Linked DNA regions of Homo sapiens: regions 2 and 3 are each linked to region 1. Evidence: fine-mapped expression QTL. A gene starts in region 1. Each other region holds a variant in brackets. All regions are shown on one strand. Distances are from middle to middle.

Region 1 (2,763 bases):
TTGAGCCCAGGAGTTTGAGACCAGCCTGGGCAACATAGTGAGATTCCATCTACACCAAAATTAAAAACTCAAAAAGAAAAAAAAAGAATCTGTAACTAAAACTCAGGTAATATCAATATGGAAATGGTGTGGAGGATAGAGAGCAATCTTGCTAGAATTCTGATCTCGTTTAGGGGTTAAATATAGACACTAATTAACACTAAATCTTAGAAAAATCTGAATTTAGTTATGTTTGCTTATTTTTTCCCCATAATTTCTAAGATTTGGTTGTGGATAAAGGGTGAAGTATGGTGGTATACAGAAATTGCCATGTGTGCTCATTAATTAGTTATTTACATGTCTGCAAGATGTGAAATTCCAAGAGAGCAGGGACACAGAGCTACTTTCTTTCTTTTTTATTTTTTAATTTAATTTAATTTAATTTAATTTATTTATTTATTTATTTATTTTTGAGACGGAGTCTCGCTCTGTCGCCCAGGCTGGAGTGCAGTGGCTTGATCTCGTCTCACTGCAACCTCCGCCTCCCGGGTTCACGCCATTCTCCTGCCTCAGCCTCCCAAGTAGCTGGAACTACAGGCGTCAGAGCTACTTTCTAAGTGTTTAACTAATGATAACTAACTAGATTACCAGATCTGCTTGTAGTTTCCCACAGATGCCATGCCGTACTCTGGGTGGAACACCCTTCTCTTCTTTACCTGGTTAACTGCTATTCATCCTCAAGAGTTGGCAAAATAGAGTGTAGTAGTTAGGGGTTCATGCTCTGGCATCGGACTACCTACCTTTGCATCCAGACTCCACCATTTTCTCTGACCTTGGACAAATAATTATCTTATGCCTCAGTTTCCTCATCCTTAGATGGGGCAAATCAAGTAAATGAGCTAATCTAGTTAAAGCACTTAGCCCAGTGTCTAAACTCTGTAAATATTAGCTATTGTATTCTTGTAGCCCCAGCTCAGGTATGAGCTCTCCCACAAAGCCTTTCTTCTCATTACTTGTCAACCTCAGACTCCTTCAGGAACCCCCACGGCACTCTGGGCCTATTCCTACTGTAGTACTTAAGGTTCTATTAAAACCATGCTTTTGTATCGGGATCCCCTATCCCACCCAGTTCCTCCAGGACACGGATGGCAGATTAGTCAAATCTCTTCTCACCCCACTGTCCGACTCCGTGTTTAGTACTAATAGTAACAGAACGTCTAGTGAATGAAGGGCACTTCGGAAGGAATCGTTAAGTGCCTATGAAGCAGAGCATTAAACGTAATCATATCAGAAACTGGACTGTTTTCAATTGCCGCTAAAATGTTCTACATTCGAAACTTGGGAACGTCAGAGCTAGAGGGAACCTCACAGAGACCACCCGGCACCATAGCGGAAACTGAGGCCCAGGGAGGTTGGCACGCGCCTCGGGTGTCTCAACAGCGAATTAACAACAGAATCAGAGCTAGATTCCCAGACCAGGGGTTCCCCCGTGCCCCTCGGCTAGACGGTCAGGAAATATATCACACCCCCACAGGAGTTACCGGGAGCCAAGCAGGTTCTGACTCCACGCTAGTTCGACTTAAAGGAGCTCTTCTCTGCCCGGGTCGTTAGGAGGAGGGACACTCACTTGGCCGAGAGGTGTTAGAGAGATCTTCCAAACTCTGCGACTCCCCCTGGGCGGCCAGCTCTGCGGCCGGGAGAGAACTAGGCGCTAGGACAGCTCCAGGTGCGACTTGGTTGCTGGGGCGACCGGGCACCTCTCACCCGGAAGCGAATACGCGAGGGGCTGTAGCTGAGCCAATCAGAAGGCGCCGGGACTGTGCCGCTGCAGCTGGGCCACCGCAGGGCTGCTCCAAGTGAGAATCGTGAGGGTGGCCAAGTCCAGTTTGGACCTCTGACCCTTGGGCAGCACCTCCCGACAGCCGGCTCGGGACCCAACTCTGCGAGCCAGGTACGTCTTCCACTTCTGCGGACAAGTGATGCGCGTTGTGCGCACGGTGTGCGCGTCACCCTGTTTGTCAGTGTGTCTGCCGCCTCCTGCTCCAGGAGTGGTCGGGATCTGACGAGCATCGCGGCCCAGTGTGTTTCATCCAGTCTGCCTGGGGCCGGTGAATCTGGACCAGCAGGATCCCAGGCCCTGATACCGAACCAAGGCGGGCTCTGCCGCTGAGGTTGTCCACGCTCAAACTGCAGGTTGGGGCCGGGGGGGGCGGGGCGTGAAATTCAGTCTTGGAGCAGGCTAAGGGGTTGATTGAAGGGATCAGGCTCCGTTCTCTGACTCCGTCTGTGTGGCTTTTTTGGGGAGAAGGGTGGGGACGATGTGAGTTCGAAAAAGGATACGAGATCTGGATATCTGGATGGAGCTGGATATATTGTGATCAGTCAGAGATCTGCCTGGGAGGAGAGTAGTGTGTAGTCACTTTTCAGTGCCTTGGCTATCAAACAAAGAATACTCTTACAGCCAAACTTAGGTCCCTGTATCCATGGTGAAGAAAGATAGTTGGAGTCTTCCCGGGCTAGATGGAATAGATAGTGGAATCTAACCACGTGGATTATACAACCTAATTCCTATTCCCTTGAAAACTCTGGGAGAGTGGTATTGGACACCATTACAGTCAGTAAATCTTCGTTTAAAATGTTAAGCGCATATCTCAGATCTAGTTGTAAAAGTAACATTTTCTGGGTTGGTGTGAGACAACTTGTTTTGATTCAGCGTAAGTATCCTCTTGCTTTTTCCTAATGTTTCTCAGTACACAAATTTACCTGGGCTGCATGGTTTTTGAG
Region 2 (2,763 bases), 140 kb after region 1:
AAAGACATTCAAATGAAAGAATCACTGAGGGTGAAGCCTGGGTATTAATGTAAAAATTTCACCTGGTGATTTCTGAGACAGCATCTGTCACCCAGGCTGGAGTGCAGTGGCATGATCGCTGCCTTGACTTCCTGGGCTCAGGTGATCCTCCTGCCTCTGCCTCCTGAGTAGCTGGGACTACAGGCACATGTCACCACACCCAGCTAATTTTTGTATTTTTTTCTTAAAGATGGGGTTTCACCATGTTGCTTAGGTGGGTCTCAAACTCCTGGGCTTAAGCATTCCACCGGCCTTGGCCTCCGTAAGTGCTAGGATTACAGGTGTGAGCCACAGTGCCTCGCTTCTCCCCTGGTTCTTCTAATACGCAACCAGAATTGAAAACCACTGCTCTGGAAGTGGTGTTAGTTATTGGAAGATTGGCCTGGTTTATTCTACTATAATAAGGAAGTAGCAGCACTCACATGTGAATCAAAGGATTCTGCTATTGTCCTCTAGGTTTCTCTGTCTCCAAATGATCCCATGCTGGAAAGGAAACTGAAAAAAACAGAAACTGCATTTTAATTTATATTAGTACCAGTAGAGGTCGCTGTGCTCAAAGAAATAATCATCTTTAAAAAAAAGTTAACATTCTATTCAGAATTTTTTTTTTTTTTTTTTGAGACAGAGTTTTGCTCTTGTTGCTCAGCCTGGAGTGCAGTGGCGCGATTTCGCTCACCGCAACTTCCACCTCCCGGGTTCAAGCTATTTTCCTGCCTCAGCCTCTTGAGTAGTTAGGATTATAGGCATGTGTCACCACCCCTGGCTAATTTTGTATTTTTAGTAGAGACGGGGTTTCTCCATGTTGATCAGGCTGGTCTCAAATTCCCGACCTCAGGTGATCCACCCACCTCAGCCTCCCAAAGTGCTGGGATTACAGGTGTGAGCCACCACGCCCGGCTAATTTTGTATTTTTAGTAGAGATGGGGTTTCACCACGTTGGCCAGGCTGGTTTCAAACCCCTGAGCTCAGGTGATCCACCCGCCTCGACCTCCCAAAGTGGTGGGATTATAGGCATGAGCCACCATGTCTGGCCTAAATATTTTTTTTAGTATAAAAAATTAAGTGTGTTACTTAATTCCTCTTGATTTTTTAAAACTATTTTTTAGTTAGTGGTTGAATCTTACCACAATCTAGTTCTGATTAATACTCTGGTAAAATATAGAAATTACACTCCAATGCTGTTTCCTTTTACTCTTCCCTCTTTTATGCTATATTTATGTATTCTAAACTTGATACTACTGTGTTACAAGTATTGCTTTGTGTAATCTTAACGTCTTTTTTTTTTTTTTTTTTTTGAGACGGAGTCTCACTCTGTTGCCAGGCTGGAGTGCAGTGGCATGATAT[T/C]GGTTCACTGCAACCTCTGCCTCCTGGGTTCAAGCAGTCCTCCTGCCTCAGCCTCCTGAGTAGCTGGGACTACAGGCACGTGCCACCATGCCCAGCTAATTTTTGTAATTTTAGTAGAGACAGGGTTTCACCATGTTGGCCAGGATGGTCTTGATCTTTTGACCTTGTGATCCACCTGCCTCAGCCTCCCAAAGTGCTGGGATTACAGGCGTGAGCCACCATGCCCGGCTAATCTTATGTCTTTTAAGAGAATAAATGAAAAAATACAATGTCTTATTAATCCATATATTTACTATTTCTGATCTTCTTTATTTCTTTCCATGGATTCTGGTGTAATTTCAGTATGGAGGACTTCCTCTAGTATTTCTCATAAGGCAGGCTTGCTAGCAATGAATTCCCTAGTCTTTATTTCACCTTTGCTTTTGAAGGATAGTTCTGGGTGATAATTGAATCTCTGGTTTTGAAGCACTTTGACCATGTCATTCCACGGCATTCTGGGCTCCATTGTTCCAGATGAGAAGTCAGCTGTTAATTGTACTGGTGCTGGTGGTCCCCTGTAGCGAGGAGTCATTTTTCTCCTGCTGCTTTCAAATTTTGTTTGCTTTTGACATTCAGCAGTTTAAATGTATCAACAGTTTGGTGTATCTAGATGGGAATCTCTATTCTTGAAGTTTGTTGAGCTTCTTAGATTTATAGATAATTGGTTTTCATCAAATTTGGAAGTTTTTTGCCATTATTTTTTTTTGTCCCTCTCTTTGGACTCCCATTACTCATACGCTCATGTGCTTGTTTTCTCACAGGTCTCTGAGGTTCTGTTCAGTTTTCTTCAATCTCTTTTCTGTTTTTCAGGTTGAATAATTCCTATTAATCTACCTTCAAGTTCACTTACTCTTTCTTCTGCTGTCTCAAATCTACTTCTGACTCTCTCTAGTTAACTTTTTTTTTGTTTTGTTTTGTTTTTTTTTGAGACAGTTTCACTGTGTTGCCCAGGCTGGAGTGCAGTGGCGTGATGTTGGCTCACTGCAACCTCTGCCTCCCGGGTTCAAGTGATTCTCGTGCCTCAGCCTCCCAGTATTACAGGCACAGGCACATGGTGATGCCTGGCTAATTTTTGTAGTATTAGTAGAGATGGGGTTTCACCAGGTTGACCAGGCTGGTCTTGAATTACTGTCCTCAAGTGATCCGCCCACCTCAGCCTCCCAAAGTGCTGGGATTACAGGTGTGAGCCATTGTGCCTGGCCTCTCTAGTTAACTTCTTATGCATCATTATACTGTTTTCAACAAACTTCTACTTGATTCCCTTTTTTTTTTTTTTGAGGTAGTGTCTCACTCTGTCACCCAGGATGGAGTGCAGTGGCATGATCTCAGCTTACTGCAACC
Region 3 (2,763 bases), 34 kb after region 1:
GAATCCTGGACTGGTGGAAGGATGGCATGTGAATTGGGCAGACAGTGACATTTTGCTGAACGAGCACGTGAAACAGGTGAATTCTTTCCCTCCTCACCAACAGGACCACATACACACAACCACATTCCTTTGTCTTTCTCAGGTATGTATTACAGGATGGGAGCCCATATATGCGGTCCATGAAACAGATTTCAAAGGAAAAGCTTAAAGCAAGGCGGAACAGAACTGCATTTGAAGAAGTGGAAGAAGACCTAAGGCTCTCCCTTCACCTCCAGGATCAGGATTCTGTCAAAGATGCAGTGCCAGATCAACAGTTAGATTTTAAGCAGCTCCTGGCCCGCTATAAAGGTAACATGCCTCTTGGGGGAATATTATAATTATGCCAAAGATTTCTAGTATTCTTTCTTACCAAGATTCGGAAGAAGAAAAATATGATTCTTGTTTCATAGTTACATTGCCTTTAATTCATCAGAGCAACCTTAAACCTAGAAAAATAGTTCAGATACATATTTAGAATACAATTGTTACTATATTTGCCAATGGGTTTTTTTTCTAATTATAAAAGAAATATGTGCTCATTAGAGAAAAATTGTGAGGTAGTAAAATATAAGTTATATTCTTGTGCATTTTGTAGCTTTTTATTTTGATGTGATTTCAAATTTATGGAAAAGTTCGCAAGGCTAAACGATGAACTCTCATATATCCTTTACCCCAATTCACCAGTTGTTAATGTTTACTTCATTTTTTGCTTTATCATTTGCTCTGGGTTCATGTATTTTTTTTTTCTGAATCTCCTGAGAGTAAGTTACAGATATGATGCTCCTTTACCCTTAATACTTTAGTGTGTCTTTCCTAAGAACAAGGACATTCTCTTACGTAACCACAGTACAGTGATCAAAATGAGGACATTTAACACTGATACAATTATATAATTCACAGTCCATACTCAGGCTTGAACAATTATCTCAGTAATGTTTATTTTTGCTGTATTTTCCTGATTCAGGATCCTATCATGGATCATATATTACATTCAGTCATGTATTCTTAGTCTCCTTTGATCTAGAACAGCTCCTCATCCTTTGTCTTTTAGTGACCTTGACATTTTTGAAGATTATTTTGTAGAATGTCCATCCATTTGGGTTTAGTATTTCTCCATGATTAAATTTAGGTTATACATTTTTGGCTGGAGCATCACAAAAAC[G/A]ATCTTGATTTCTCAATGCATCATATCAAAAGGCACATGGGCCCCGTGGTGTTGGCTTGTCCCATTATTGGCAATGTTAACTTGTTCACTTGGTAAAGGTAATGTTTGCTAGGTTTCTCCCTTGGTAATTGCTATTTCTTTTGTAGTTAATAAGTCATTTGTGAAGCAATATTTGACATGATTTTAAAACCATTTAATATCCCAATAGTTTTAGCATTATTCGTGGGCTTTTAAAATAACATCTTTTGAGGCCTACCCTGTGCTGAGCTTTTTATGTATGTTATTAGGTACTTCCTCCTCCCATGCCAGACTCTAGCTGGCTACTCTTTGTTCCTATGTGGTCTTCTATCCATATAAGCTAAACTGAGCCCATAGAAACCCCAGGATCACTACTTTTGCTTTCTTCCTTGAAGCCTAGACTACAAGCAGGTCTCAGCTGTCCTTCTTGCTCCTTTTTCCGTAGACTGTCACCCTGTTCTTAGTTCTTCCCAAAAAAGGGTGTTTATTGTTCATGAGTAAGAGCTTCCAACCCGTTACTGCTTCTGTAGGATACAAGGCAAATGAATTTTCCTTTTTCTGCATCTACCAAAGACAGTTCCCAATCCTGGATGTGGAATGGTAATCACCAAGGAATTAAGATATTAGCCATTATTCTGTTGTTTAGGAAGATAAGCATAGCTCCCTAACATTTTATTTCATCTTCGCAATATTGAGAGATGTAAAGCTAAGAGAATGGACTTGTGTTTTATAGATCTGGGTTCAACTCCCAAGGCTCTCATAAAACCAGCTAATGATCTTGAGCAAGTTCTTTATCATCTCTGTGCCTCAGTTTCCTTATCTATAAAGTGGAATCATTTAGATGAGTATAATACAAACCCACAAGGATAGTGCCCAGCTAGTAAGTGCAGATCCATGATTCTAATTAAAATATGTCTAACTAAAAAATTTGTGTGCTTTTTGTACGTCATACCAACTGATAATTCAGATTCCCTTATTCCATTAAATTATGGAACAAGAAAATTCCTTTGAGGTTGGGCATGGTGGCTCACGCCTATAATCCCAACACTTTGGGAGGCTGAGGCAGGAGGATCACATGAGCCCAGGAGTTCAAGACCAGCCTGGGCAATACATTGAGACCTTGTCTCTACTACAAATGTTTTTTAAAATTAGCCGGGCATGGTAGTTGGCACCTGTAGTCCCAGCTACTCAGGAGGCTGAGGCGGGAGGATTGCTTGAGCAAAGGGATTCAAGGTTGCAGTGAGCTATGATCGCACTAGTGCACTCCAGCCCCAACAGAGCAAGACCTTGTCTCAAAAAAAAGAAAATCCCTTTGGCTTCTTTCAAAATTTTGGAGTTTTCTTTTAAAATTATCACTGAATCTAATCCATGACTTTCTAATTTTAAGCACAAAGGTTACTAAAGTTCAGAAAGTACCTTTGGGACCCCCTTTTTAAGGAAGGAGAATGGAGGAGTTGAGGTCAGGAAACATGACTCTGCCACCAGCTTCTGTATGGTACTGGGCTGATTGCTTAGCTTTTCTGAGCTTCTGGTTCTGTTTTTTG

Alleles and levels. Alleles are on the strand shown, and positions count from the first base shown. SD is a standard deviation of normalised expression in the study named. Not every link is listed here.
With allele T in place of C in region 2, the expression in skeletal muscle of the gene that starts at base 1,741 in region 1 is lower (small effect, 0.23 SD a copy in GTEx).

What was found. PIP is the estimated chance that this variant, and not a neighbour inherited with it, causes the effect.
Region 2: its variant is the best candidate, but not a certain one, in a credible set for the expression of MORN2 in skeletal muscle (GTEx, PIP 0.90).
Region 3: its variant is the best candidate, but not a certain one, in a credible set for the expression of MORN2 in blood mononuclear cells (TOPMed, PIP 0.68).

The regions. Positions count from the first base shown.
Region 1 is chr2:38,874,954-38,877,716 of GRCh38, reverse strand. MORN2 (MORN repeat containing 2) reads right to left here and starts at 1,741. Exons shown (of 5, transcript NM_001145450.3): 1 at 1,607-1,741. The coding sequence starts at 1,664. DHX57 (DExH-box helicase 57) reads left to right here and starts at 1,783. Exons shown (of 24, transcript NM_198963.3): 1 at 1,783-1,930. RefSeq lists an enhancer at 1,590-2,574.
Region 2 is chr2:38,738,876-38,741,638 of GRCh38, reverse strand. No RefSeq gene overlaps it. Among named protein-coding and RNA genes, the nearest start is that of SRSF7, 11 kb to the left of the region's middle. RefSeq lists a silencer at 629-801. The variant T/C (reference allele first, on the strand shown) is at 1,384.
Region 3 is chr2:38,840,590-38,843,352 of GRCh38, reverse strand. DHX57 (DExH-box helicase 57) reads left to right here. Exons shown (of 24, transcript NM_198963.3): 12 at 143-348. LOC105374470 (a long non-coding RNA gene) reads right to left here. Exons shown (of 3, transcript XR_001739419.2): 2 at 410-485. Among named protein-coding and RNA genes, the nearest start is that of DHX57, 34 kb to the left of the region's middle. The variant G/A (reference allele first, on the strand shown) is at 1,202.